Homo sapiens: one gene and its partner. The protein of the gene in region 2 interacts with the protein of the main gene of each other region in a pairwise test. Each region holds a gene or a part of one and is shown on either strand. Other genes may lie near its edges.

Region 1 (3,500 bases), about 89 Mb from region 2:
GCTGCATTATTTTGAAATACTAAAAACTTAGGATAAATTCCATATAATGGAATGCTTATGCACCAATTAAAATTAGAGCTACAACACAAATAACTCTCAAAAACATAAGATTGACAAAGAAAAAGGAAGCTGAAGCAGGTTATATACAGTATACCATTTATGTGCTTTTAAACATGAAAAATTATATTGTTTAAGTGATACATTAGGAATGCAAAACATTCAAGTTTTAGATAATGGCTACCTCTTGAATAAAGGGGATTTCAGCCATATCTAGTATTTATTTTTTAAAAGTAAATATGATAAAATGTTTCCTTTTGTCAAAGGTTTCCTTTTGTCAAAGCTAGGTGTTTTCCCTATACTCTTTATGTTCAAATGTGCTTTAGTGGGTAACAGAGAGTCATCAGTAACCTAGTCTTGAAAGCCATCAGTTGCAGTGGGTTCTGCCTATAAACCCAGAGGTGAATGCAAAGTAAAAAGAAAAAAAAAAAGTTGGGGGGCAGGGAATAAATGGTGAAGAAAAGGCTGGACGTAAAAAGGAATAAAAGCCTGTTATTTGCAGCAACGTGGATGGACCTACATGTCATTACATTGAAATATGCCAGGCCCAGAAAGACAGTATCACATATTCTCACATGTGTGAGCTAACAAACTTGATCTCGTGGATACAGAATATAGAATGATTGATTGATACCAGAGTGTGAGCATGGGAGGAGGAAATGTAGAGCAACTGGTGAATGGGTACAAAAAGAGTTAGATAAAAGACAAGCTGTATTGCTTGATAGCACATTACAGTGACTATAATTAGCAACAATATATTGTATATTTCAATGTAGCTAGGAGAGAGGACAGGAAATGTTACCAACCCATAGAAATGATGAATACTCAAGAGGATGGATACCCCAAATACTCTGACATTATTATACATTTTATACGTGTAACAAATACATGTACCCATAAATATGTAAAATATCATGTATCAGTAAAAGAAAAAGGCTGGATAGAGAGAGGTAAAAATAGGAGAAATGAGAGCAGTCAGTGCACATAAGAGTAATATGCTTGTTATACTGTGTGGCTACACTGGTTAAGGAAATTCCTGCTGCATATAACCCAAATTTGCCATTAGAGGTTAAGAAAACTTTCCACTTAACAATTTAAAAATTATACAACTAAAACATCCATTATTTAAAAATCAACATAAAGAAGCAAAAAAAAAAAAAAAAGAATAGTAATCAAAATTACACCGTTGTTGATATACTGTATTCCCTTCTAGGTTTTGGGTTAATACGTCTGTACATTTTTTCTTTTTTAAAAAGAAAATGAGATCATACTAAAAGAATCACACTGTTTTATAACCTTTTTTCCCATTCACCAATATGTACTGAAAAACAGTATTTTAATGGCTGTATAGTTTTTCCATTATGTTAATATGTCATAATTTACTATGAATCTCCTGTTGAGTTATTTTAATTCTAATGTTTCACTAAACATTTTTAAAAAACATCTGCAGTAGAATCATAACATACATCTTTATTTCCCCAAGATAAGTTGATAGATGCTAAGTGAAAAGGTATGCATATTTTTGAGGGTTTTAGATCCTCTCTAGTATTCTACTTTTCCTATTAGTATAGGATAAATAAGACAAGATGACTGAAATGAAAAGGATAGGTGTGAGACATTAATATTATCAATTATTCAGCATAGACATGTGTAGATTTTATTTGGAATGCTGCAAGTAACATGTACTACTTGGGTCAAAATAAGCTCATTACAAAATAGGTTATCAAGTAGTTCATTATTCTAGTTAAGAATAAATTGGGTCCCTACGTTTCCCTTTTTGACCTAAGACATTTTCCTTTGTAAAGAGTACTTGGAAACTGGAAGTACCAATGGATTTTCTTTTCTCTATTTTTTAAAATAAAGACTTCATGAGTCCTCTCCATTAGTACTGTAAGAGAAAATGCTCTTGGAATAAACTCTAAGATACATGACAAAATAAGCTGCCCTCAACAGATAAAATCTTCACCTACTTTGGTCACCAGGGAGGTTCAAATTAGCCGGGTATTAGAAAAGTTTCCATCAGTAGGAAAGGGAAAGCATCCTCTAGAACTAGATCCGTGGTGTGGATATCAATTGAAAGGCCATACTTGGGATGAAGGCATAAATAAGGTAGAGTCATTGTGGAGATGGCTCATAGAGGAAGAGACGTCTGTGAATTTATCCTCAAATAATTTTCTCATAAATAAAACTTAACAAGTTAATAGATCTCAAAACCTGGAGCTATCCAAATGGTGCAGTGATAAGCGTAGTGCCCCAAGTACATTTTTCTTTTAATTGGTATTCACATAACTAGCTATAGTAATAATTATTAAATAGTGAAGTCCATTGTGAAAAGCAAGGGCCATGTTTCATTTATTTTTGTTTTTTGAGCTTTTATCGCGTTTAATAGTAGGCAATCAATCATTGTTGAACTAAATAACTCATTCTTTCATTCTTAACAGACTGGATTATGGACAGAACTTGGAAATATTGAGAATAATTTCTTAAAGCCACTTCATATAGGACTTAATATGTCAAAAGCACATTATGAAGCAGAAATTAAAAATAGCCAAGGTTGGTAATGTGCAATTTTGTTTTCAATTAGGTCTAAAAAGTAGTCTAATTTTGGAACTGTCATATTCAAATTTAAGAACTTTTTAAAAATCTTGTACTTTAGAGACCATAACAGCTAAGCCATTTTATTTATAGTTAAAATTCTTAGCAGATCTATAAGCTAATTTACCTAAAATCGGGTTAATGAAGACTTAAACCAAATATTACATTGTAAAGCCTCAAGGTCTGATTAAGAATCTGTATTACAGCTATTTCCGTTTGGGTACCATTCCTTTGGTATTGCTGGGTCCACTCTCCATCTCACTCTCAAGTAAATCCATACAAATTATGAAAAGAATCTTAGATCCAGAATTTTTTTAAGTCAATAATTCTATAATAATCGTGTGATCTCTTCCGTATATCTGTGGTGGTGCTTTTATAGGCATTACCGGAAATTTTGTTTTTAGTATAATGGCTATAATTCTGATTATATACTGAAGAAAACAGTTTCATGAATCCTATACATGCCAAAATAATGCTATTTATCTAAAGAAGCATTAATTTACATGTTGCAGAATTTTGATATTTCATTCTGTTTGCTTATAGCTTAAGTATACCCTGAGCTGTTAAACAATGGACTTAATAATTTATACAAATAACTGACATGTTTTAAGTTAGTGAATGAAAGTAGCTTATACCTTTGTTATTGAAATCTGAGAGTTAAGTGTCACACATGATTTTTCTTCTCTTACAGAGGCCCAGAAATCTAAAGATCTTTGTTCTATAACTGTAAGTGGAGAAGAGATCCCTAATATGCCTCCTGAAATGCAGCTTAAGGTGATCTGAAATTTTCTTTTCTTTCCTTTTTCTTCTTTAGAAACGGGGTCTTGCTATCTTGCCCAAGCTGGAGT
Region 2 (3,500 bases):
GGGCTGTAGAGTGCTGAATGAGACCCTGAGTCCCTACAGACTGGAGAGAAATGCGGGAGCAGGGCCCTGGGGCCACCTACCCTGAGGAGAGAAGCCGAGAAGCGCCTGGGGCCAAAACCCTGGCACCCTCGCTGACCTCATTGCTCCAGCTGGGAAGCAGAGACTGCCCGGCTGGACAGCTCTTCCCCCGGGAAAAGCCCGGGCTGCAGGCCACTGGGGCCCAGATCAGAGAGGGAGGGAGACGAAGGCGGCTGGGCGGGCCAGAAACCTGCTCACAGACCTTTCCCACTGAGGACCACAGGAAGGTGAGCTGCCCGTGTCCATGAGTGAGCTCCCTCGTGAGGGTCCTGCCAGGGTCATCGGCTCTCAGCCCCTCCCTGCTGCGCCCCAGCTTGCGGGAGGGCGGTGGTCGCTGGGGCCTCTCTGGAGGATGCAGCGTGGGGGCGTTTGCGTGACCAGAGCTTCCTCAGGCCTAGGAGGGCCACGGCGGGAGAGGAGTGCTGGCTGTCCTCTGGCTGAGGAGGCCAGGTGGGGTGGGGGAGGGGCTCTGGCGGGTACCTACCTGGTTCTTAGCCTGCCTGCACAGTGTATGTTTTAAAGCCTCAGAATCTAAGGTGGAATTAAGCACATCTTTAACTTCAAATGCTTCCTCAGCTGCTCTGCGGAGGTCCAGCCCCTTCCCAAAAGTCGGCATCGGCTCCAAAGCTAACAGACCGCCTTCGTGGTCCTCAGCACACCTGCACCAATGACCGGGGAGAGGGAAGGCCTGCTGTCAGCAGCCTGGCCTTGGCCGCCTCTCTGATGCTGCAAGCCCAGCTCCGGGCCTGCATGCACGCCGCTGCATCTCTGCCAGCCACATGCACAGGGAGACAGACACACGGACACACAGACGCCTGGACGGGAAGGCACACGGATGCAGGAGAGTGACGGACAGAGGTCAGGGAGGGGGTGAGTGCGTGCACACGCATCAGGCAGCAGGCAGGGGGCTCAGGTCTTGCCAGTGGAGGGTGGAGAAGAAGGCTTCAATTCTCTAAGACCCCAGGCAGCTCAGAGAGGCCCGGGGCTCCCTCTCCCAGGACTCAGGGGCAGCATCCAGGCTGGAGAGGAAGTGCCACCTCCGAAGGGCCTCCCCAAGGGCATCTGGGAATGCTGGCAGTGTCGCCCAGGCCCGATATTGGTGGCGAACACTGAGGACATGGGGAAGTGGCCCTGGCCGGCACAGAATGGTGGGTGCTTGGCCCCCGTGTGCCCACGGCCCTCTAGTGGCTGCACGCGCTGTCCCAGGCTGACAGGCAGCTCTGCTGCAGGGCCGGGGGCCTCCATGTCTGCTCAGTGCAGGGAAATGCCTTCCCCTCCACACTCTGCTTCCAGCCTCCAGGGCCCCTGGGGGTGGGTGGGGGGGTTAAGGGCCCCTGACCCCGTTGCCCCTGGCCCAGCCTTGCCCTGGCCTGTGTGTGGAGGCCCTGAGGTGGCTGTGCTGGAGTAGGGGCTGAGCCAGGGATGGGCTCACGAGTGGCTGAAGAGGGAGGTCCCCCTCGTGATGGACGCCCACGTTCCCTCCCTGCCCCATCCTGGAGCACACGGCTGCCCCCACCTTCGGGTGTGGTCAAAGCCCACGGCCAGGGAGGCGGCTGGCTCCTCATCCTCCTCATCCTCGTAGGCGGCCTGGGGCTCGGGTGCGGGGGACACGGTGTCATCCTGCGACTTCCCGGCCAGGCTGTCCTCATCGTCCTCCTCCAGGTCATCGTCGTCCTCCTCCTCCACGTCCTCCTGCTTCTCACTGGCTAGGCCTGGACACTGGGCACTGCCGTCCACGATCTGCATGTCCGCCCTGAAATGATGCAGGAGGAGATTGACTGAGTTTGGGTGTCTCTGTCCTTCCCATGGACCCCCAAAGGCTGGTGACTCCGCTCTGCCCCCACTGCCTCCCCCGACAACACTCAGCCCCCTTCCTGAGGGAGCTCCCGCGGGTCCCTGGGCCCAGCCACTGACTCTGCAGAGTGAGAGGCACGGAGGCCTGGGGGCGATCCCGGGAGAGGAGGGCAAGCGCTCGGGGCGGTGGGGGCAGGGCAAGGCCCAGCAGCAAGCTGCTATGGCCGGGAGGACACCAGGGCCGGGGCGGTGTTGGGGTGGAAGCAGTGGGCAGTCCTGTGGGGAAGCTGGACCTGCACTGGCACGGGGGTTGGGCAGTGCACGAGGGGCACCCTCAGGGCAGACTTCAGGGGGAAGGAATTCAGGCTGACAACTCGAGGACGTGGGCACTGGCCCGAGAGCCGGGAGCCCTGGAGGGCTCTCTGGGATCTGGAGAGTGAGGGCCCAAAGCCTGCTGTGAGCAGTCTGAATGCACCAGGACAAGCTTGCTTCGGAGCCTGTGGGGGGACTCTTCTGCAGCCCAGGGCTCTCCTGACTTCCCTCAGGGTCACTGCAGCCCGGCAGGACCCCTCCACTCCGGTTCCTCAGTATTAAATAAAAAAGAACAAAGCGTGCATGGGTGTGGCTGGGCATTCTCATTTCTTTCAGGAAGAGCCACTAGAGTTTGGCTCATCTTCATGTTCACGACCAAGAGCTGTGTCTTGGGTGGGCTGGGCCCCAGGGGAGCTGAGGGCCCCCGGGCACATGCTGGACATACTGGTAGAGGGGCCCAAGCAAAGGGCAGGGCACGCAGTTTCTGGACTGCCCATGCCCAGAGCCCCAGGGCCACTCTTCCTTGTCCTCACTCCGCCCGGGGGCACTGCCTCCCGCTGCCCTGGGAGGTATCCACGGTGTGGGTGAGATGCAGGGGTCCTGCTCTTGGCATCCAAGCAAGAAAGTGACAGCGTCTCACGGCGACCGACCTCCGTGTCTCGGACTCGCCTGTGTGCACGGGAACTGGGCTTGGGGAGGCCACAATTTCCTGGCTCTCCACAGATGGGCCACGTGTCTATCTCTTGTCTTTCTGCCTTCCAGGACGGACAGAACCTCACCAGGTTTCAGGGCTTGAGGAGAGTTCCTCGGTCCTGGTCGCCTGTGTTGGGGGCCAAGAGCGTCCTGTACACACACCCATCTCCTCAGCCACGGAGCTGCTGGGATCCGGGTCCTGGTTCTCACCCTGGTTGTTGGTGAGGTGCCCTCGGGTGGGGTTCTGTCTTTGGGGCCTGTGCCCTCTCGATGACACGAGGACATACCCCTCCCTGTCCACTCTGAGGACGGGATGAGATGGCGCAGGGTGAGAGCCCAGGCTCATCACATGGGCATGTGCTGTGAGATCTCATCTGGTGGCCCCACGTGGGTTTGCATGGGCTTCCCACCAGCTGGGGGCAGGGACTTTGCCCTCTTTATGTCTGCTGCACACCCCCCATGCACAGAGTATTTGCTTTTTAGTGTTGGGGAGCGGAGCATCCGGCACGGACACAGAATAGGGCCCAGTGGCTGGTTTGGCTCCAACAGGGAGGACAGTCAGTTTCCCAGAGCTGCCCAAACCAAGCCCCACAGAATGGGGGCCTGAAGCAACAGCCGTGGAC

Evidence for each region. Proteins that work in one complex are often made in the same cells at the same time.
Region 1: the proteins of PRDM16 (region 2) and GLMN interact in a two-hybrid assay, tested with the Homo sapiens proteins (one large-scale study listed by BioGRID).

Annotation. Positions count from the first base shown.
Region 1 is NC_000001.11:92,246,988-92,250,487, reverse strand, and holds part of GLMN (glomulin), read left to right. Parts: intron 1-2,498; coding exon 2,499-2,610; intron 2,611-3,343; coding exon 3,344-3,426; intron 3,427-3,500.
Region 2 is NC_000001.11:3,429,203-3,432,702, reverse strand, and holds part of PRDM16 (histone-lysine N-methyltransferase PRDM16), read right to left. Parts: intron 1,832-3,500; coding exon 1,595-1,831; intron 738-1,594; coding exon 563-737; intron 1-562. UniProt on the Homo sapiens protein: Binds DNA and functions as a transcriptional regulator. Displays histone methyltransferase activity and monomethylates 'Lys-9' of histone H3 (H3K9me1) in vitro.